Linked DNA regions of Homo sapiens. The protein of the gene in region 6 purifies or fractionates together with the protein of the main gene of each other region. This does not show direct contact. Each region holds a gene or a part of one and is shown on either strand. Other genes may lie near its edges.

What was found.
Region 1: the proteins of IRAK2 (region 6) and PELI2 purify together in Homo sapiens (affinity purification with western blotting, with the first as the bait; one study listed by BioGRID). This does not show direct contact.
Region 2: the proteins of IRAK2 (region 6) and IQCB1 purify together in Homo sapiens (affinity purification with mass spectrometry; one large-scale study listed by BioGRID and IntAct). This does not show direct contact.
Region 3: the proteins of IRAK2 (region 6) and SENP1 purify together in Homo sapiens (affinity purification with mass spectrometry; one large-scale study listed by BioGRID and IntAct). This does not show direct contact.
Region 4: the proteins of IRAK2 (region 6) and YTHDF1 purify together in Homo sapiens (affinity purification with mass spectrometry; one large-scale study listed by BioGRID and IntAct). This does not show direct contact.
Region 5: the proteins of IRAK2 (region 6) and LTF purify together in Homo sapiens (affinity purification with mass spectrometry; one large-scale study listed by BioGRID and IntAct). This does not show direct contact.
Region 7: the proteins of IRAK2 (region 6) and LYN purify together in Homo sapiens (affinity purification with mass spectrometry; one large-scale study listed by BioGRID and IntAct). This does not show direct contact.

What each region holds. Positions count from the first base shown.
Region 1 is NC_000014.9:56,299,218-56,302,024, reverse strand, and holds the end of PELI2 (E3 ubiquitin-protein ligase pellino homolog 2), read right to left. Parts: 3' UTR 501-2,807; downstream 1-500. UniProt on the Homo sapiens protein: E3 ubiquitin ligase catalyzing the covalent attachment of ubiquitin moieties onto substrate proteins. Involved in the TLR and IL-1 signaling pathways via interaction with the complex containing IRAK kinases and TRAF6.
Region 2 is NC_000003.12:121,825,061-121,828,560, reverse strand, and holds part of IQCB1 (IQ calmodulin-binding motif-containing protein 1), read left to right. Parts: coding exon 1-91; intron 92-2,380; coding exon 2,381-2,510; intron 2,511-3,500. UniProt on the Homo sapiens protein: Involved in ciliogenesis. The function in an early step in cilia formation depends on its association with CEP290/NPHP6.
Region 3 is NC_000012.12:48,064,580-48,068,079, forward strand, and holds part of SENP1 (sentrin-specific protease 1), read right to left. Parts: intron 2,387-3,500; coding exon 2,348-2,386; intron 1,102-2,347; coding exon 1,017-1,101; intron 642-1,016; coding exon 486-641; intron 1-485. UniProt on the Homo sapiens protein: Protease that catalyzes two essential functions in the SUMO pathway.
Region 4 is NC_000020.11:63,199,132-63,202,631, reverse strand, and holds part of YTHDF1 (YTH domain-containing family protein 1), read left to right. Parts: coding exon 1-345; intron 346-3,500.
Region 5 is NC_000003.12:46,438,026-46,440,905, forward strand, and holds part of LTF (lactotransferrin isoform 1 preproprotein), read right to left. Parts: intron 1,456-2,880; coding exon 1,271-1,455; intron 105-1,270; coding exon 1-104. UniProt on the Homo sapiens protein: Transferrins are iron binding transport proteins which can bind two Fe(3+) ions in association with the binding of an anion, usually bicarbonate. Lactoferricin binds to the bacterial surface and is crucial for the bactericidal functions.
Region 6 is NC_000003.12:10,220,419-10,223,918, reverse strand, and holds part of IRAK2 (interleukin-1 receptor-associated kinase-like 2), read right to left. Parts: intron 1,284-3,500; coding exon 1,088-1,283; intron 1-1,087. UniProt on the Homo sapiens protein: Binds to the IL-1 type I receptor following IL-1 engagement, triggering intracellular signaling cascades leading to transcriptional up-regulation and mRNA stabilization.
Region 7 is NC_000008.11:56,011,752-56,014,669, reverse strand, and holds the end of LYN (tyrosine-protein kinase Lyn), read right to left. Parts: 3' UTR 501-2,918; downstream 1-500. UniProt on the Homo sapiens protein: Non-receptor tyrosine-protein kinase that transmits signals from cell surface receptors and plays an important role in the regulation of innate and adaptive immune responses, hematopoiesis, responses to growth factors and cytokines, integrin signaling, but also responses to DNA damage and genotoxic agents.

The DNA.
Region 1 (2,807 bases), on a different chromosome or scaffold from region 6:
CTTTGACCCATTTTGATTTAATGTTTGTATGCTGTGTGAGGTGTATTCCTTGCCCAATGGAATGTAACTTACAATTATAACCAGTTGTGATTTTCTATAACACATCTCACAATTCGTGGCATCTTAGATTTGACAAAGTATGGAACACTTATCCCCTGAAATAAAAGCCTATATAAATGTGCATTTTTTTTCTGGAAATGAAAAATCTGTTTCTCTCAATAATACTAAAACTCTTTGAATATCAATGTGATGAGAACAAAATTTGTCATAAATATATACATTTTCTTATGATAGATATATTAGTTTAAGGCTTCAAGGAAGGCTTGAAGGCTTATACACAATCCTTATTATGTTGTTAAAAGTGAATGAAGACTGTCACAAGAGCAGCAATATGGCTGAAATGATCATGACAAAAATCCATTAATTCTACAAGTCAGGTTAAATTCCCCTGGAAGTTAACTTTATTTGACAGTGATGTAATGTCACGAGAAATAGTAATATAGGCACCAAGGAAATTTCTTTAATTAAAAAATGTAGGGGATTTTCAGAATCAAGGTTTAAATATGTATTGTGCAGAATATAAAACAATTAATAAACTCAACAGCTGGAGATTAACTTGGAAGTTAGAGAAGTGAAAAAAATCAGTTCTACTCGTATCAACCTACTAAATGTCCTAATGAACTCAGTGACAACCACAGAATCTGAAGACAATGGCTCACAAACAGGCTGATATCCATTTAATAGTTTTTGAAGATTTTTTCCTGTAAAATGGCTTGTATTTCCACAGGTACAATAGTGAAGAAATAAACTTTTCAATTTGACATGAAATATAAAACAACAATTTTACAAACATATTCATAAAATTTAACTGCTAATAACACAATACATGGTAAATGTGACCATCCCCTTAACTTCTAGACTATTTAATACAGAGAAGCAATCTGTCATCTCAGCTAAAAAGAAACATCTTTCCTTTCATTGAGTTTATTTTTGTTTGTTTAGAAACTGTCAAGCAAAACTGGAAAATACTTATTTTCCTTATCTTCCTCTAGGGATTCTTCATGAGGGCAAAGACTTATTTGAAAGGATGTAAGTTATACTAAAAAGAAAATACTGAACCTTTTTTTTGTGTTACTGCTTCAATGATGCTTAGATTATTTTAAAAAGATGCTGAAGTCGTCTCATTGGTCGCACAGAAGGAGGCGCATCATAACCTAAGCCACAAAGGCTAAACTACTGGGACAGAAGATTGACAGTAAAGGGATGGAGATGGATTTGGCTTAAAATCAAAGTCCTGTGGTTTGTCTATCAGAAATTCCACTGTTATGAGGCAAGGCTGCAAGAAGATAGTTTTTACCCAGCATTAACAATGGTGTAATCACACACCCTTTCAAGCACATCCAAAGAACAGAATGGCTTTAAAAAAGAAAAGAAGTGAAACAAAACCATAGAACTGCAGGTAACAATTCTACAACCTATATTACACTTCAATTAAGCAGAAAACTCTCGTAAGTGTCCACACAATACTGAGCTCCCAAATAACAGAGGTTTGAGTTTTTCCATGAAAAAAAAAAAAAAGACATTGAAGCTTTATGAACTAAAGAGTTCTCCTCAAGTTTCCCAATACAGTAAATGTAATAACTTAAAATAATTTCCCTATTGGTACTGGAAAATAAATTCTACTACAATCATGTTTATGCCAGTTTCTGACATATTTCTGCATCCAGATTCATTAGTCTCCTTAATGGAGCCCATCATTTTTCCAATGGCTTTCTCCTTTCTTTAAACCCTAACCCTGAAATTCTATAACCAGTTATATCACGTGGCTTCCCTGAGGCACAAAGGTACCAAAGTCTATAATTAACTATCGAGGAATGATAAATATGTTCTCTATTTATATTAACAGATTTTAATTCTTTTGGGCCACAGTTGGGAGAAAAAAATCCAGAAACCTTAATACTCTGCAGGGTGAACTGTAGCCCTTTTTGCTAAAAGCTGAACCAAATAAGGGAAATGTTGAGAGTTGCAGCATGCATGACCCGGCAGCACCGATTATTAATAAAAAATTCCGGACTAGAAAAATACTCAGAGTTGTACTCCATCCACTCTGAATCTTTTTTTTTGTAGTAAACGACATAAACAACTGAAAAATATTTCTATGGGAATACATCACTGGGACTTTTACTTCTGGAAAGCTACTTGCAAAAGGCATTAGAGTCAGGCCAAGACAACTAATTGGTCTGCAATTTCCTTGTGTATACACATGGGGGAGTGGGGCTAGTCCTTTAAAGTGATGGCAAGACATAAAAAAAGAAGTGACCTTGGAGAAATTACTTTTCTGAATTGCGTTTCTCCACCTTGGTGAGCTACAGAGTTCTTTATTTTCACAAACTAACTCAACTGTGAAAAAAAAAATCTCCTTAGTCAAAATTGTAAAGGGATCTTCCTACAAGTGGCCAAGAAGAGCCTGGTGTCCTTTTTGCTGATTTGCCACCTCTCTGCAGTTCCTTAGGCAGGGTGGGCGGGACCTGACTTTGGAAGCCAAAGGAAAAGATGTGGAGCCCATGGAGGGCGGTTCACTGTTACCCCTTCCAAGAGCTTGGAAATTATTTCCCAAATTTCAACTTATATTTAAGCTGAATTTACTAAAAGTCAGAAACTTTTAGTTAGACATATGCCCAACTACGGGACGTGTCCAACTTGGAAGGTAACTTCATTTTGGGGGATATGTCACGTTGCAGAATGACTAGACTTATAAACAGGACTTGAAATGGAAAATTATGATATACCTAACTCTCTGGAAAAAT
Region 2 (3,500 bases), about 110 Mb from region 6:
TCATTCAATATTGCCTCTTGGTCCTCAGTCAAGATTATTCTCGAATCCAGGGTGGTTGGACTACAATTTCCCAGCTTACACAGATATTAAGGTAAAATAAAGCAGTAAGTCAGCTGTTCTTGAGGGATGTAGTAGTTGATTCTGATTTTCAACATTTGCTTTTTATTTATCTGCCTAACAAGCATTGGCAACCTCCTGTTGTAGGTTTTGGTTGTACTTTTCCTTCATATTATATGTTATTATTCATAATTTTACTTCAGATTATTTGACTGTCTAAAATTTTCCTCCACAAGCTTAATGAAGATGGTGATCATTTTTTTTCTCACCACTGAATTCCAAGTGCCTAATATACTTTTTATTGATTAAGGAATTTTTAAAGAAGTGAAGAAATTAAGGCACTGGCTCTGTACCTGAGAAACTTAAAATAGAGATTGGGTGACAGTCATGTAAGTATATGATACAAAGCAGAATGAAATCAGTGCTAAAATGAAAGTATGCAAGCAAGTACTATAGGAGAACTGATAAAGAAACATTTTATTTCACTATATCAATGTAGCTATCAACTGTGTATTTCATTAAGCAACCCAAATACTGTCAATAAAATTTAGAAGTAGAATTTACTGATCTACTGCCATGCTAGAAATTAATAGAAGAGAAATAAACATTTTTTAAAGGAGGTAGTAAAATAAACCAGATGTTCTTAGTGCCTAAGCTACTTCCTGATTAATAAGTGAAAGTGTGTATTTACTAACTGGATCCTAGCCTTCTTTTTTTGTTTTTCCTAAATAAGCCATTTGAATTTAATAAGCTATTCCCACTGAAAGGGTTTGTCTTGGATGCTAGATTTCTAAGCTGCTTAATCCTACTGTGTTACTTGGTAAAGGCCAAATTTAAAGCACACAGTTACAAAGAACAGTTGAAAAATATATGTGATATTCTTTTTCATACTTTAATTTTCAAGATTGATTTTCTTAAGTAAATAAAGCCTTATGTTTTTGTTTTGATTCGATATGCTAGTTTATGATGATATTGATTAAGCCAGGCTCTCGGGTGGAATTCAAGACTTAAGAAATTCCCATGTTTCTGAATGCACAAATAAACATAATTTCATTTGTTAATCTTCTCAATCAAAAAAGATACTCTTAAGTAATTAACTTTAGGAACCAAAGAGAAAAGAAAAGCTGATACATGTGAGCATTAGCCCATTAACTTTAGGAACCCAGGTGCAAATAAACAACAACAACAACAAAAAGTGATACATGTAAATATTATCCACTTAGGTTTTTTTTTAACTTTTATTTTAGGTTCAGGGGTACATGTGGAGGTTTGTTTTATAGGTAAATTGCATACTCAATGTTTGTTCTCACTTATAAGTGAGAATATGCAGTGTTTGGCTTTCTGTTCTTGTGTTAGTTCACTTAGGTTAATGGCCTTCAGCTCCATCCATGTTGCTGCAAAGGACATGATCTTGTTCTTTTTTATGGCTGCATAGTATTCCATGGTGTATATGTACCACCCCAAAGAAATATACCATTTTCTTTATCCAGTCTGCCATTGATTACTTAGATTTTTAACATGCTCAATACATAGTTGTTATTGCTTATTAGTGTCCATACATTTTGTTGAAAAGACTCAAACAGCAGTTTTTGTTCATTAGAGTACACACATAGAGACCATTCTTGGGTTTGAGGCTCTTTTGAATGTTAGTTTACAGAAAAACCTTTTATTATTGGGACTTCTGACTTATGTACAGGAAATGACTTTTATGTACAATTTTAAGAGGACCTTTTTCTCTAAGTGACTTTCTCTCCTCTAATGTATATTGTAAAGTGTTCCTACTAGAGTTAGGTTTTGCCGTTTGTCCTTCTGATATAAGGAATATGCAAATGAGTATTTTGCAAAAAGTAGATCTATTGGAAGGTAAAATTGGTATGAAATTAGTGTTTGGTTTCCTTATGTATCCCTTGCAAACAAATCCTACTTGGGCATTTTTCAGCTATTAGGTGTCTAAAATGTATTAGTTAACACAAATGCTTTTCATAAATTAAACTCTCAAGGTATCCTATAGCTTTGAGAATGATTATAGCCAATTCACTGAAAACTTAGCTTCTCTTTATTGTGAGCCAAGTGTCTTTTATTTGCTGAATGAGCTGATATGTAGGTTTTTAGGATACATAAATCCCAGACCTAAGTACAAGCATGGTCCATACCACTGTTTACTTTTCTAGAAAGTTGTTAGACTAATTTTTCAACAAAAATTCTTTATTGTCTTGGTAACAAAAGAAGCATACTAAAAATTCTCAATAAGGCACAGTGTCTCTAGAAGCTTGAGCATTCAACATAAACTTCTAATTAACACGAACTTGTGCTCTTATTTCAGCCATTGCTGTGTGGGCTTGGAGCCAGGAGAAGATGCAGAGGAATTTTACAATGAATTACTTCCATCAGCTGCAGAAAATTTTCTAGTTTTGGGGAGACAATTACAAACATGTTTTATCAATGCAGCTAAGGTATGTGTTTATTTAGTCTTTTGTAGCTAAATCAGTTTAATTCTTAAGAAGCTGTTCTGTTATTTTTTAAATGTGCAATATTTGGCTGAAAGTACAATTAAAGTAGTGAATTTAAACATTTTCAAAGTTACAACCTTCCAAAAATCATCTCTATGTTTGAAAAATTTTTAATGCTGACTGAAGCTTGCCATTTGATTTTTTGAAGGATCTGCCTTGCTACTTTACTTGTTGGGCAGCACCCATAGACAATTATTTCCATAACATCTTTCTAAACATACTTTTTACTTAAATTAACAGTAGAGGAAAGTATGTTCTCTAGGGCTAGGGCTTTTCTAAGTAGCTCCAGTAGTGAAGAATAAAGGTGAACTTCCTATTTGATCTCTCATATCTTCTCCAGTCAAAATATTCAACCCAAACATAGGGGTCTTTTCAAGTATTTCTTGGTTGCATTATGCTAGATGCTATACATGTGCTCTTTTTTTGACCCAGGGATTTAGAAGTGTGTTGCTTAATTTCCAAATATTTGAAGATCTACTAGATACTTTATTGTTATCAATTTCTAATTTAATTATGTTTTGGTCAGATAACATTCTCTATATCATTTCAATCCTTTGGAATTTTTTCAGACTTGTTTTATGGCCCTCCGCATATGTTTTATCTTTGTGAATGTTCATTAAAAGAAACTTTTGTGGGCTGGGCGCAGTGGCTCACACCTGTAATCCCAGCAGTTTGGGAGGCCGAGGCGGGCGGATCACCTGAGGTTGGGAGTTTGAGACCAGCCTGACCAACATGGAGAAACCCTGTCTCTACTAAAAATGCAAAATTAGCCGGGCATGGTGGCACATGCCTATAATCCCAGCTACTTGGGAGGCTGAGGCAGGAGGATCACTTGAACCCAGGAGGCAGAGGTTGCAGTGAGCCAAGATAGTGCCATTGCTCTCCAGCCTGGGCAACAAGAGCAAAACTCCATCTGAAAAAAAAAAAAAAAAG
Region 3 (3,500 bases), on a different chromosome or scaffold from region 6:
TTTTCAATATTTTAAAAATAAAGCCCAGATTGGTATATAAAATAAGCGAAAGCTGAAATATACAAGAAAATTTAAATAACACGTGTTCTATGGCTTTTTGTGTGTGTGTGTATGTGAGATGGAGTCTTGCTCTGTCACCCAGGCTGAAGTACGGTGGCATGATCTCGGCTCACTGCAACCTCTGCCTCCCGGGTTCAAGCAATTCTCCTGCCTCAGCCTCCTGTGTAGCTGGGATTACAGGTGCATGCCACCACACCCAGCTAATTTTTGTATTTTTGGTAGAGATGGGGTTTTACCATGTTGGCCAGGCTGGTCTCGAACTCCTAACCTCAAGTGATCCACCCGCTTCAGTCTCCCAAAGTGATGGGATTACAGGCGTGAGCCACCGTGCCTGACCACTATTGCTTTTATGTTTGAAACTCATCCGAGGGATTCTTTCTAAACATGATACTTAGTAGTGTAGAAATTAAGTGTATGTAACTTACCTCTGTAATTTCAGGAAATTCATCTTCACTATCAGTTAATTTATGACCTTTTTTTTGTGTTTCTTGGACAACAGTAACAGGAATCTCCTTTTCAAGAGGTACACGAAGATGTAGTTCTACTGAATCATGTACTGAATGTTCCCGCTCCTGCAATCTCTGAAAGATAAAACTTCAGAGTAAGTGGGATAAAGAAATCTGTGGATGTTCCTTGATTTATGATAGGGTTATGTCCCAATAAACCTGTCATAAGTCAAAGAGCGTGCTTAAATGCCCATTGCTTTCGCTTTTTTGTAAAGTCAAAAAATCATTAGTCGAACCATCACAAGTAGGGGACTATCTATATTTGTCTTATGTACAATGAGTAGCACTGACTGGACAGACCAAGAACATTTACGACATATCATAACATGCTATGCTACCATACGATCTTGGAATTACAACAGCAATTACCCAAATCTGGGTAACTTTCCAAAATAGTTTCTACTTTGATGTACTATTTATTTGTAATATTATTCCAATTTTCTTTTTTACCTGGTTTTGAAGCTGTAAGGCCAATGCCTTCTGTTCTTCAATCTGGCGCAATCTTTCTCGTGCTCGAGAATCATAAACACTAGTTCTAGAAAATGAAAAGGAACGTGACCAAATGTAGACCACTCTCATTATGAAACATATTGTTGATGTACACTGAATATTAAATACAGGACCCTCACAAAGAAAGTCTAAAATCCTTACACTAACTTATCATCCTTATTTTAAGACATAGAGTGAAACCACATAATGTTACTGAAATTACTCTACCATTTTTACTTATTATTTTTTATAGAGATAGGGTCTCACTACAGTGCCCGGGCTAGTCTCAAACTCCTGGGCTCAAGCGACCCCCCTACCTTGGCCTCTCAAAGTGCTAGGATTACAGATGTGAGCCATTGCACCCGACCTATTTTTACTGAAATTACTAAAAATATTAGTGTGCTGCTAAATGTGAACAGATGACTTGTTAACATTTGTAAACACACAGTTCTTTTCTTAACATGCTTTTAAGATTATAGTGAAAGCGAAACTTCAGTCTGGAAATCCAAAAATGGGATTGAACCCTAAAGGAGAAACGAATACAAGATATCACTGAAGTTTAATTCAAATACTTCATTTTTGATAGATTTTTAAAAAATTACCGAGACCGAGGGGTTTGGATAACTTAAGTTCCTTAAGTGAGACTAAATGCTTTCAGTGATTTTGCAAAGTCCAGAAATATGAATTATTCAATAAATTAGTTTTACAAATGCCAAAATAGGATCATTTATTTTCCCTATTATATAATAGCTAACTCTATTTTTCCAATTTAATTTAGCTTCAACAATTGTTATAGATTTAATAAACATAAGTATAGAAATGTTCCAACTCCAACAATATTTTGAAAACCCAACAACTTAAAAGTATAAACAGGCACTTCTTTTTTTTTTTTTTTGAGATGGAGTCTTACTCTGTTGCCCAGGCTGGAGTGCAGTGGCGTGATCTCGGCTCACTGCAACCTCCACCTCCCAGGTTCAAGCAATCCTCCCGCCTCAGCCTTCCAAGTAGCTAGGATTACAGGCGCGTGCCACCATGCCCAGCCAATTTTTGTATTTTTAGTAGAGATGAGGTTTCACCATGAAGGCCAGGCTGGTCTTGAACTCCTGACCTCAGATGATCCACCTGCCTCAGCCTCCCAAAATGCTGGAATTACAGGCGTGAGCCACCGCGCCCAGCCTAAACAGGTACTTCTTATTGGCAAAAAATAAGCAGGATGATTAGCTAATTGTTTGATTTCTTCTAACTAAAAATGAACTGATTGAGAAGGAAAAATGATACCAAAAATAACTTACAATTCTTTGATCCACAGCTCTGCCTGGAAGAAAGTAGAACTATGGGTAGGAAAAGAAAAATTTGACAAATGAGCAGGAGGCTTATGAGAAAATTAAAATATTTTCATCAATAAAAACAATCATTTAAATTGTTTATATGAGTGCTTTACAAGTATGGAATAAGTAAAAGGAATCTAAATGACATAAAATAATTGTAACTAGGAATTAAGGAGACACAATCCTTATGCATACATATTAGTTAAAATCATATGGATACATATTAGTTAAAAAGGTGACCCAAAGTTCAGCAGAGATACTACATTTGGCATAGCTCCCTACTTGCATGAGACCAACATTACGTGAAAGAGGACATCACTTCTCAAAATAATACATTAAGCTAGAACATTGCTCTTCCCAAATGACTCAGATTGAAAGATTTATTAAAAATCCCCACACACAAAATAATCTACATCAAATGGCTAACAAGCCAATGAGCCAAAGCAGAGAATCAGCAACACAACTTCCTTCCAAAGATGACAGGCCAATTCTAGGTCCATGTGGCTCTGCTGACAACCCAAGTGATATGCTGAGCAGAGCCACAGACATGATTAATTGTCCTAGAGCCTCTTGTTTTTCTCAAACTTCCTTATCTCCAAACTCCTAACTAGGCAGGATCTATCACAGAAACACAAAGAAGAAGAGTGAACACTTTTCCAAAGAAAACTATTAAATATAGAGAACAAGTAAACAGAGCATCAAATTGGGAGTTAAGAGACCTGGATCAGAGGCCAGGCATGGTGGCTCATTCCTGTAATCCCAGTGCTTTAGGACGCTGAGGTGGGAGAATCGCTTGAGCCAAGAGTTCAAGACCAGCCTGGGCAACATAGTGAGATTCTGTCTCTTAAAAAAAAAAAAATGATCTGCAACTAGAATAGTGCTTGGCACAGAGTAGGCATTTAGTGTTGTTTGTTTGTTTTTTGACTCTCACTCTGTTGCCCAGGCTGGAGTACAGTGGCACAATCTCGGCTCACTGCAACCTCCACCTCTCGGGTTCAAGAGATTCTCCTGCCTCAGCCTCCTGAGTAGCTGGGATTACAGGCACCCGCCACCACACCTGGCTAATTTTTTCTTTTTTTTATTTTTATTTTAGTAGAGACGAGGTTTCACCATGTTG
Region 4 (3,500 bases), on a different chromosome or scaffold from region 6:
CTCTTCAGCGTCAATGGGAGTGGGCATTTTTGTGGGGTGGCCGAGATGAAGTCCCCCGTGGACTACGGCACCAGTGCCGGGGTCTGGTCTCAGGACAAGTGGAAGGGGAAGTTTGATGTCCAGTGGATTTTTGTTAAGGATGTACCCAATAACCAGCTCCGGCACATCAGGCTGGAGAATAACGACAACAAACCGGTCACAAACTCCCGGGACACCCAGGAGGTGCCCTTAGAAAAAGCCAAGCAAGTGCTGAAAATTATCAGTTCCTACAAGCACACAACCTCCATCTTCGACGACTTTGCTCACTACGAGAAGCGCCAGGAGGAGGAGGAGGTGGTGCGCAAGGTGAGGCTGGGTGTTGCAGGCAACTGCCATGCAGATGTGTCCTTGGTGCCGTACTTAGACCAGGTGGCCCGGTGGTGAGCAGATGCGGCAGGTCCGCCGAGCTGAGTCTCGTGACAGGCAGCTCCCAGTTGGCCGCAGGTGGGCGGGCCCAGGTCCTGGCAGCCTCGTGGGCTTTCCCTGCGGAGAGTACTGCTAGTAACCAGTGATGGTATTTGGGTAGATGTCACCGAACGACTTTGATCACTTTCCAATTATAATTGAATAATTGGGACCACAGTGTACACATTCTGTTTTTCTGTTACAAAGAATTTGAGGGTAACTTTCTCCTCTCCTTTTTGAATTGTGATACTTTCTGGAACAGTGCTTCCCAGCCTCCGTCCATGAGGAACACTTAGGTGATATTCACGAAGCACTGCGGTGGGCACGTAGGGCATCGAGACCCCACCTGGCCAAGGGCCCTTGCTTCCCAGGGCACTGTCCCTCAGTAGTTGGGAATCTCTGGTCTTTGATCTGGAGGTCGTTGCTTTATTTTTCTTTTAAAAACCCAGTATCCTGCAGTTTTTGGAAACAAACTCACTCCATCTAGGTCGTAAAGAAAATGGTGGTGGTGGGGTAGGTTTGGAATCCAGACATTTTATAATGACAAATATGGATCCTATATCAAAAATTCATTGACTGGGCCTTTTTGAGACAGTCCTGATTTCCTGGGATACTTGTAGCCAAACTCCTGAGTCTGTGCTGTCATGTGATGTCTGACGGGATTGAGTGTGTTTGCTCTTCAGAAGGGCTCAGATGCCCGTAAACTGGCACCAGCAATGGGAAAATGATGATGCTGACATACTTCATAATGCTTCCTTTATTCGAGAGAGTTCATCCTGAGATTCTCTCCTGCTTTTTAAAAAATATCCCTTCCTGAAATGTCAGTTGATAATAGATGGGTTTTCAGTGTTTTTTTCAGTTCTCTATGTTAAAGGAATTATTCACCTGTGAGCACCAAGTGTCCTAATGTATTTTGGGCAGAAAGGCGTGTACATGGCATATATAGGGATGTATAGAGTAGAGCCGCCTGCACTGTCTGCAGTCTTACATTATGCAAGTCCTGAACAACTTGGGGCTTGTAGAACTTTGGAAAAGTATCAGTCCCTCTCTTTTGTGAGAAAAGAAGTGGATGTCATTTATTTCCAGTTACTGAATTCTGAATTAGTTACTGAAATTCTGTGTTTTAGGTCTTTTTTTTTTTTTTAAATGGAGTTTTGCTCTGTTGCCCAGGCTGGAGTGCAGTGGCGCAATCTCGGCTCACTGCAACCTCCACCTCCTGGGTTCGAGTGATTGTCCTGCCTTAGCCTTCCAGGTAGCTGGGATTACAGACAATAGCTCGGATTACAGACTTTTAGGTATAAAATGAATACTGAATTGCTAAAGTTGCAGGGATAATTGCTAATGAAGCTTTAGGTCCTTAGCTGGCTAAACTGGAAGCTGGCTGTGTGTGTGTGCGCGCACAGTTTTTCTTCTTAAATACCGTAATACTTGGGTTTTCATAAAGTGTGCGGACTCCTGACCTGGTTGGTGTTTTTAAAACTCTAGTGTCCTACAACTTGCATTATAAAAACTTGATCTAGATAACTGCTTTTGTGTGTCGGGTTATGGGTTAAGCATCTTGGTAAGCGGCCTGCAGGGTCTGTGGGCATCTGCCTGCAGGCAAGATCCAAGTGTTCCTCAAACCACTGGGTGCTCCAAGGCGAGTCCAACAGAGCCGCTGGTGGAGCATCATTGGAAGGAACTTGGTAACCCTCCCCTAAACTGTTAGCCAAGCTGGAGAACTCTGGGCCCATATGGGTCAGTGTTAACATTAATTCATTTTATTGAAAGTGACAAATGAGAACCTGGTTTGTTAATGTTTGGTGGAATTTCAAATAGCTTTTTTTTTTTTGAGCCAATCTCACCGTCAGCCAGGCTGGAGTGCAGTAGTGCAATTTTGGCTCACTGCAACCTCAACCTCCGAGGTTCAGGCCATTTTCCTGCCTCAGCCTCCCAAGTAGCTGGGATCATAGGCGCCCACCACTGCACCCAGCTAAATTTTGTATTTTTAGTAGAGATAGGGTTTCACCATGTTGGCCAGGCTGGTCTCGATCTCTTGACCTCAAGTGATCTGCCCACCTCAGCCTCCCAAAGTGCTGGGATTACAGGTGTGAGCCACCGTGCCCCGCCTCAAATAGCTTTTTGTTTTTGTTTTTGAGACAGGTCTTTCTCCGTCTGCCGGGCTGGAGTGCAGTGACTTAATCACAGCTTGTTGTAGCCTTGACCTCCTGGGCTCAAGCGGTCTTCCTGCCTCAGCCTCCTGAGTAGCTACAGGCGTGCACCACCACGCCTGGCTAATTTTTGTATTTTTTTGTAGAATCAGTGTCTTGCTATGTTGCCCAGGCTGGTCTTGAACTCCTGGGCTCAAACAGTCTTCCCACCTTGGCTTCACAAAGTGCTGGGATTATAGGAATGAGCCACTGTGCCCGGCGTCAAATATCTTTTAAGCTTATTGGGCAGTGTAGAGAAATGGAAGTGGTCCTTGAGGAGGTCCCCAGACTGGACTTCGCTGCTGGCTCTCCCTGCCTGCGAAGGTGCTCTAGGCCTTGTGCTTAACGGGCTGGGCTAGTGGCTCATCCAGGATTGGAGTCTTAGGTGTCTTGAGGCTGAGACTCTGGGTGTCTAATGCTTTCTCCCTCTGGGTTTCCCATGAAGAGTCAGTGCAGTTTTGTTTTGTTTTTTTTTTTTTTAAGACAGAATCTTGCACTGTTGCCCAGTCTGGAGTGTAGTGGTGTGATCTCGGCTCACTGCAAGCTCTGCCTCCTGGGTTCACACAATTCTCCTGCCTCAGCCTCCCGGGTAGCTGGGACTACAGGCCCTTGCCACCACGCCCAGCGAATTTTTTGTGCTTTTAGTAGAGATGGGGTTTCACCGTGTTAGCCAGGATGGTCTCGATCTCCTGACCTCGTGATCCGCCCGCTTTGGCCTCCCAAAGTGCTGGGATTACAGGCGTGAGCCACTGCGCCCGGCCGAGTCAGTGCAGTTTTAAGAACAAAGTAGTGTGCCGAGGAGAGGGTTGTGCGCCTGTGCTGGTAGAGCCCCCGGGCGGTTTTCTCAAGGTTCTCTCAGGACTTCGA
Region 5 (2,880 bases), about 36 Mb from region 6:
CTGGCCAGACACTCAGTGTTGTCATTGAACAGAAGGTTTTTGGTTTCAGACTGGAATAAGCAAAACTTGTCCGGGCAGTCAGATCCATTTCTCCCAAATTTAGCCTGCGACAAAAGGGCAGACAGTGAGTAGCTAAGGAAAAGAGGAATTTATGGGTTAAAGGAGGCAAAGGGGTATTTCTTCCACCCAAGAACAGCCCTGAGAAAACCATGGGGCAGAAGGAGCTGAGTTCTGGAGTCATTCCACCTCCTTAGTGGAGTCCCCCACCCCACACTCCTGGTGGCAGGCCCGCCTTGGGCAGCATCCAGGCCTCGCACCACTTCTGGTCCTACCTCCTACCATCTGCCATCTTTCCTTCCTTCTTAACCTGTGACCTTTTCCCATACAACTTCTTATGGGTGACAAGGCAACAATGGAGGGGTTTTGAGATCTGCCCTCACAAGTCAATTGCTCAGGACATTCTAATATGCAGCTCTTCTAGAGAGGCAGGCTGCTAGGAAAACCCAGGCTCAGCCACTAACCAGCTCAGTGTGCAGGTCGGTCACCCTGCCTCCCTCACACAGTTCCTGCTCTGTCCCAGGCTCCCATGTGGGGAGACTGAGACCCAAACCCCTCAGTCACGGCAGCTCTCTCACCAGCACCACTGTGTGTGCACATTAAGAGCTCCATAAAGGCCAGTTATGGTGGCCAGTCTTGTTATTCCTGAGTTGTTTTCTTCAAAAGCACACAGAGACATGATGTTATATGATAAAAATAGAAGTTCTAATAAAATCCCAGATTTTAAGAAAATTTTGGGATTTCGTTCAAATCACATTTAGAGAGCCCTAAATCTATAGGGCACCTTCTGAGTTTGCTGTTTTAGAGGCCTGGCCTAGAGCACTGTTCACTCGGCCCAGGTTCAGGAAATGTCACCTGAGTAAAAAGCACTATACTAATGCATGTGGGAGGAAGGCTCAGTGGCTTCCTCATTTGCCAGAAGAACAGCAGGAGGGAAAAAGACAGCCTCTGAGCCAGGCAGTGATGGCAACAAGGCCAGGGCACAGAGTCTCAGCAGAAATGGAGTGAGTCCCAGAAAGCCCAGAGTCAAAAGCCTCTGTTGTTCTTGTTGACACTCTGGGCAACGCCACAGCATGAAGCCAATACTCTCACCATGAGCTTCAAGTAGAGGACTAGAGAGGATCGAGTGGGCTGGTGCACCTAGCTCTGTGATCTCCTCACCTAACATGAGCCCACACAGCTAAGAAAGCACTAGAAGCCCTGTGGTCCATACCTGTTGGTGGAGCAACACCTGTTTCAGGCGTTCCACCTTATCCATCCGAGACACCACGGCATGATTCGGGGCCATGGCAAGATGGCAGCTTCTAGCCTCAGTCACAGGCTTCCGTTTGCCATCGAGGCACAGCAGCGCAAAGTCTGCCAGCTTCAAATCCTTAGCCCATGCCTCATTGTTATTTCCTGGGGAGAAAAAGAAGGTGGCATCATCCACGCCTCCCCTGCTTAGCCAAGAAGTCTCTTCTGGGTGGGTGTGGCCATTCCACTGACCTCCCAAATGCACACACTGGGGTTGTGGTGATGTGAGGAACAGAGAAGGAGCTTCATCCTACACAAGCTGTACAAACTTCAAATATACCAAATATTAGTGCTGTGTCCATGCAATGGAATGTTATTCAGCAATAAAAGGGAGTGAAGTTCTGGTACATCCTGCAATATGCATGAACCTCGAAAACGATGCTAAGTGAAAGAAGCCAGTCACAAAAGACCACACAATAGGCTGGGCACGGTGGCTCATGCCTGTAATCCCAGCCCTTTGGAGGCCAAGGTGGGAGAATCACTTGAAGCTAGGAGTTCATGACCAGCTTGGGCAACATAGCAAGACCTCATCTCAAAAAAAAAAACCCACCACATATTATATGACTCCATTTATATGAAATGTCCAGAATAGGCCAACCTATGGAGACAGAAAGTGGATTGATGGTTGCCAATGCTGAAGAAGGATAGGGCAATGACTGATAATAGGTGCAAGGGTTTCTTTATGGGAGGATACAAGCGTTCTAGAGTTGGATTGTGTTGATGGCTGCACAACTCTGTGAATGTGCTGGAGATCACTGAATTGTACACTTTGCATGGGTGGATTTTTTAGTATATGAATTCTACCTCAATAAAGCTGTTTAGAGTTCTTATTTTTTTAAAGAAGAAAACCCTCCACCTATGCCATATTTTTCAGTGAGTTCCAGAAAAAGAATAGATGGTTTACATTCAAGGAGAAATTGGTTTCTCCTCCCTTTCATATTCAAATGCTATTAGTGTAACCAGAGAAAGGAAAGGAACTTTTATAGGTTTATCAAATATATACAGCCAATTCTAACAAAATACAGTTGTAAAGTACCGGAGAAAGTTAAAATTAAATTTGACATCAATCTGATCCCTGGAGATTACTTCAGTTAATGGCTTGTAAATTCTAAATGTAATTGTATGCATGTCTATGTTTGTGCAGATGCCGGCTCATTGTTCCGGCTCCCGTTTGTCTCTCTGCTCTCTCCCTTTAAGAAAGCACTTTATTCATTCTCTTGGATTCCTCTATTTGATATTGAAATAATTTCAAATTTACATGTCTTGTTTTAATCTCTGTCCCAAGAGACACTAGAAGGAGCAGAAGCAGAAGGGAGAAGTGGCTGAGACTGCAGTGATTACTGAAGGAGGGAGGCCGAAAGTGGAGACAGTTCTTTCTCAGGAAACAGAATAGCAAGTCACCTGCTGAGACTTGGGGGTTGGAATGCTGAAGTGGGGCTAAGGAGACAGATGCAGATTGGAAGGTAGCAAATGGCTGAGGACCAGGAGAGAGAGTGATTGTTCAAACATTGGCTGGAAGATTATCTTCCA
Region 6 (3,500 bases):
GGGCAGAGGTGACTCAGGGCCACGGTTCTGGTAGCAGAGGTAGACAGACAGGAGACTGTGGTCAGAGAGAGGAAGTACAGAGTTCAAGGCTAGAGAAGAAAAGAGGGTGAGGCCCAAGGGGCAGCTGTATGCACTTGGCTGAAGCCAACCTGACTGTTACTCTTCTCAGCCAGCATTTCCCAGACTGGGTTCCATGGAACACTGACAAGGACAGATATTCTGAGAACACAAGGTTCCATAGTCAAATGAGCTTGGGAAACACTGCATACCCCTCTCTGGTGAATTCACAAGTACCAGATTAAAGGCTCACTACCATTCAACCAGCTTGAATTAATCTTGTGGTAAAGAAACCTGCTTGACTTTGCCTAATGCAATATTTCCAAGCCTGTCAGGGCACAAACCCTTTTAACACATCAATCCTAGAGGTCCGAAGGAACTGGAGTTCTACAGAAATATACTTTGGAGACTGCTACATGCAGACCATGAGCTCCTGAGGGGAGGGACTGTGTTTTTGTTACATTCATATTCCTAGTGCCTGGCACGACATAATGGCAGACAAGGATGGTGGTGGTGGTAGGGTGGGATGCTGGGTGGGTCAGTGGTCGCTGAATGGATGGGCAGCTAAAGGGTAGATGGATGATCGGACAGCGATGAACAAATAAGGACAAATAGACAACTGGATGGACAAGTGGATGGCTGGATGGGAATTACGGAAGTCAGGAGAGGATATCTGGAGCCTACTAGAACCTGGACACTCATGAGTGGTTTTCCTTCAAGGGCTGGCAAATTTCTTCTGTAACACGCCACACAGTAAATATGTGAGCTTTTGGGGAGCATGTTCAGTCTCTATCACATATTCTTTGTGTTTAAAAATATAATCCTTTATAAATGTAAAACTACCCTTAGCTCACAGACCATACAAAATACGCCACAGGCCAAAGTGGCCTGTGGGCCACAGTTTGTCAGCCCCTGTTGTACTTTGATGGAACCTGTCTGTGTGCCTCTACCGTATCCTGTGATTACAAAGGAGCCGTGGGAAGGACAAATCAAGGTGGGCCCCACTCTACGCAGAGCAGGACACTCTTACTATTCCACAGCTGAAGATGTCCACTCGCTTTGTCAGCTGCCCCACCCGGATGAAATCCTCTGGCAGATACGCGGCTGACGTCCGGAGCAGGTGAGTCTTCATCATGGTGTATTTTGACCTTTTGTTGACAGGACACAGATGAGCCATTGGGTGAGCAAGTTTGGGGGTGAGATTTTGGTCCAGCAAGACATTAGAGCTGTGGAAATGAAAGGAGAGGGAACCTTCTCATTTTGAGCTGGATAACAACAAGTTGCCATGGAGACCCTTTGGGGAGACAATATAGCAACCTCACCTCCTGCAAGTTGAGGTCTCTAAAGACCCTCAGCATGGAGCTTCTGAGCCAGCCCTGACTGGGGAAGAGAGGGCATCAGGAGCACACTCCCTCCAGCAAATGGAGATGGAGTTCAGACTTAGTCTTGCTGCCCCAGGAATGTGGCCAAAGTGCAGCCTCCCTGATCCCCACAGATGCCAACCCTGATCAGCCTCAGCTTGCCACGCCTACAGGCTGTGCAGACTCAGTCTCTTCCACAACTGTTCCAACCCCCAGCTCTGGCCTGGCTGACTCAGGTCTAAGTGGCCAGCATCCTTTGTGACTAAACCTGCCCAGATCATGTAAAAAAAGAAAGAAAAAAAAATTCCCTCTTGGCCGGGCACAGTGGCTCACGCCTGTAATCCCAGCACTTTGGGAGGCCGAGATGGGCAGATCACCTGAGGTCAGGAGTTCAAGACCAGCCTGGCCAGCATGCCGAAACTCCATCTCTACTAAAAATACAAAAATTAACCAGCCGTGGTGGTGTGCGCCTGTAGTCCCAGCTACTCAGGAGGCTGAGGCAGGAGAATTGCTTGAACCCGGAAGCAGAGGTGCACTCCAGCCTGGGCAACAGAGTGGTACACTGTCTCAAAAAAAATCATTTGATCTAGTCATCTAACCCCCAGGAGCAAACACTGAGAACATACTCCAAAATGGGAAAAAGCTAAGCCACATGTGTACAGATATATAGTGCAGGCCAGGTGCAGTGACTCATGCCTGTAATCCCAACACTTTGTGAGGCCGAGACAGGAGGATCACCTGAGCCCAGGAGTTTGAGACCAGCATGGGCAGCATGGCAAGACCTCATCTCTACTAAAACAAACAAATTCAGCACGGCATGGTGGTGCGTGCCTGTGGTCCCAGCTACTTGGGAGGCTAAGGTGGGAAGCTGCGGTGAGCTGAGATTGCGCCACTGTACTCCAGCCTGGGCAAAAGAGCAAGGCCCTGTCTCAAAAAAAAATTTTTTTTGGCCAGGCGCGGTGGCTCACACCTGTAATCCCAGCACTTTGGGAGGCCAAGGTGGGTGGATCACGAGGTCAGGAGATCGAGACCATCATGGCTAACACAGTGAAACCCTATCTCTACTAAAAATACAAAAAGTTAGCCGGGCATGGTGGCAGGCGCCTGTAGTCCCAGCTACTCTGGAGGCTGAGGCAGGAGAATGGCGTGAACCTGGGAGGCGGAGCTTGCAGTGAACAGAGATTGTGCCACTGCACTCCAGCCTGGGCCACAGAGCGCGACTCCATCTCAAAAAAAAAAAAAAAAAAAAAAATTTTTTTTTTTGGTATTTTTAGTAGAGACGAGGTTTCACCGTGTTAGCCAGGATGGTCTCGATCTCTTGACCTCGTGATCTGCCCGCCTTGGCCACCCAAAGTGCTGGGATTACAGGCGTGAGCCACCGCGCCCGGCCAAAAAAAAAACTTTTTTAGCGTGTGTGTGTGTGCACGCCCGCAAATGCACGGGTGTGTGTGCCAGGAGTGGTTAAGTAAATTATGGGCAAATTCCTTCACGGGAAGACTAAGACACTAAAAAACATGACGGTATACAATGTAGCGAAATGTTTACTATGTTTAAATGAAGGGGTAAAAAACAGGATGTGAATTGGTACCCAGGTGCTACCTCAGGACTAAGGATTTGTATAGGCAGGAAGTGAAAAAAGAAACAAAACCTAGAGGCCAGCTGATGAGTCATGGGGTAGGTTAGTGGTGACCTCTCTCACCCTTTCATTTCCTTGCCTGCTATTAGAATTATTGATGCAATCAAATAAAAATTAGGGGAGAGAGCCGGGGTGGTGGCTCTCACCTGTAATCCCAGCACTATAGGAGACCAAGGCGGGTGGATCACCTGAGGTCAGGAGTTCGACACTAGCCTGGCCAACATGGTGAAAGCCTATCTACTAAAAATACAAAAATTAGCTGGGTGTGGTGGCGAGCACCTGTAATCCCAGCTACTCAGGAGGCTAAGGCAGGAGAATCGCTTGAACCAGGGAGGTGGAGGTTGCAGTGAGCTGAGATCGCACCACTGCATTTCAGCCTGGGTGACAAGCGTGAAACTCCGTCTCAAAAAACAAAAAAAAAATTGGGGGAGAGAAAAGAGGAAAGG
Region 7 (2,918 bases), on a different chromosome or scaffold from region 6:
CTGACTTGAAGTATTTAATAGATTTATCAGCACACAGGAAATTAAATTGGAAGGCTTTCCTCTTACACGTCTATCAAGTTAAAACTTTTCAGGATAAAATTTTTATCAGTTTTAGTAACATTCATGTTATGAAATGGAACATAAATGCTACTGAAACTTAATTTTTTTTTTTGTAGAGACAGGGTCTCATAATGTTGTCCTGGCTGGTCTCAAACTCCTGGCCTCAAGTGATCGTCCTGATTCAGCCCCTCCAAAGTATTGTGATTACAGGTGTGAGCCACTGTAGCTGGCCAAAACATTTTATTCTGAAGTGTAGTCTCTACAAATTGTCTTTAAAAGTGTGAATGGTAAGTTAAATTCTTGCATTACTTTTCTACCCAAATAAAATTACTTAAGGAAAAATTTCCCCTCCCATCTGTGTGGGCTCAAATGGTGCATCTTGTAAGTAATACCCTTGCTTACTCAGAACACTCAGCTGAGTCAGGGAGATTCTACACAAAGGTGTTTCACTGGTTTTATTTCACAAGGAAACAATATGAAGCGAAGCCAATCTATTCCTTCTGTGGCTTTAAATGCTCCCGATCTCTCAGCTGTGAAATAGTGATAGCATTGTCCAGATCTTCCAGGGTCGTTGTGTGAGTTAGAGATAATTTTTATCATTTGCCAAAGCACAAGAGGGCCCTGAGTAAAGAATGTGTGTATGGGTATCTTTGTATGTTTATAATTACCATTTCCATCAGGAAGAACAGCAAGACTTCACTTAATCTAAAATATTCGTGGAGTTAAAATGTAGGGAATAGAGAACTACGATCTCTCTTCCACCAGCCAGAAGTGGAAAATAAAGGAAGATGCTAAGAGGAAAGCTGGGCGGTTTGATCTCATCTGAGAGGTGTTCTTGGCTGAGGAAGCAGGAGATGTCCGACAACTGGCTGTGGAACCTGGCAGTGACATCAGAAGAGCTGGGGAGCGAGCCCTAGGACCAGCATTTAATTTATTTGAAGGTGTCAGAAGCTGAGGTTGCAGAATTGAGTCCTTTTAGCAGCTACCGCCCCTGGATGTAGTTTGTGAGAGGACGGGGAATAAAGAGAAAGCAGACCCCGACCGGGCACAGTGGCTCACACTTGTAATCCCAGCACTTTGGGAAGCCGAGGCAGGCGGATCGCCTGAGGTCAGGAGTTCGAGACCAGCCTGGCTAACATGGTGAAACCCCATCTCTACTAAAAATACAAAAATTAGCCAGGCGAGATGGTGTGTGCCTGTAGTTCCAGCTACTAGGGAGGCTGAGGCAGGAGAAGAATCGCTCCAACCAGAGAGGGGGAGGTTGCAATGAGCTGAGATCGCACCACTGCAACTCTAGCCTGCGTGACAGAGTGAGACTCTGTCAAAAAAAAAAAAAAAAGAGAGAGCGAGAAAGCAGACTCCACAAGCTGACGTGGAGATGAGTTTATACTTATGATGCTTTCAGTGCCCTCGATCTATCCCTGGTGTAGGCAACAAAATTAATTCCCTCCTTTTAGTTATTATCCTTTTATGCACCCTTGGGACAGCCAGGGCTGCTGGCTTCTGTGGCAGTGAATTTCCCCTAGAAGGGGGCTTGGACAGTACACGTTCCCAGTGGCTCATCAGAAGTACTTTCTGCAAGGGGATTCTGTGGAACCTCAGGAGGTATGCCTGGAGAAGCCACGGAAGCCCCAGGTGGCCCCTACTACTAAGGACACTGGTTTCTAGCCTGTGAGTCTCCTTTAGGTTCAGTGAGCTTCATGTTCACCAGGAAGGAAGGCACGTTTTTTTCCTCCTTCCTTCTCTTCCACTCCCCTTTGAGAAATGAAACCATCTGAGGAAAAAGAAGGCTGGGCTTTGTAATATGGGTCAAACCAAATGGTGACTCTCAAGACTGAGCATACATTATATTCACCAGGGAAGGGTTTTTTTGTTTTTTTGGTTTTTTTTTTTGAGACAGGGTCTCACTCTTGCCCAGGCTGGAGTGCAGTGGCACGATCATAGCTCACTGCAGCCTTGACTTCCTGGGCTCAAGCAATCCTCCCACCTCAGCCTCCTGAGTAGCTGGGACCATAGGTATGTGCCACCACACTTAGCTAATTTTTAAAATTTTTTGTAGAGACTTGCTATATTGCTCAGGCTGGTGTCTAACTCCTGAGCTCAAGCGATCCTCCTGCCTTAGCCTCCCAAAGTGCTGAGATTACAGGCATGAGCCACTGTGTCTAGCTGACTGGAGAAGCTTTTAAAATAGACTGACATACATCTCCCGCTGCACAACAGCTAAGTCAGAATCTTGGCGGTAGGGAGTATGGATTCTGTCTTTCCAGTTCTCTACAATAACCTGAGGTGTGATGACATGAGCCATTTTGCACACCACTGGATACCCGAAAATGCTACAAACACCTATTCAGCCCCTCATTATGCCTGTCTGTCACAGGGAGGCTGGAAACCTATAGCTAAGTAAGGAGACTGTGTGTGCTGTTCATCAAGGGAACGTGTGACTTCCACACATGCTGGACACCAGAGATGAGGCCCAAGCTGGTGAAGGGCCCACATGGAGGTAAGGATCACAGGCTTGATTGGGAGGGAAAGACAAGTGGAAAATGGCAAGAAGAGGAGGAACTGGGAGAAGCAAAACAAGGCGAAGATAAATTTAATAATTTTCTTTAAATAAATTTGTTATGCTAAAAAAAAAACCTCTAGTCATTTTCTAGAGACTTCTTTTTGCCTTAGGGATTCTTTATAGTTCCTCTCCATGTAACATATTGGGTAATACTTGTGGTTCTGAAATAAAATGCAAGCAGGGGGGTGTACACAAAAACCTTACCACTGAATCAAGGGACCAGCTGTGCAGACATTATGTAACAGTAATATTCTATAGTTCTGAACATGGCACTTGTGAATCAATAATTTTAGAA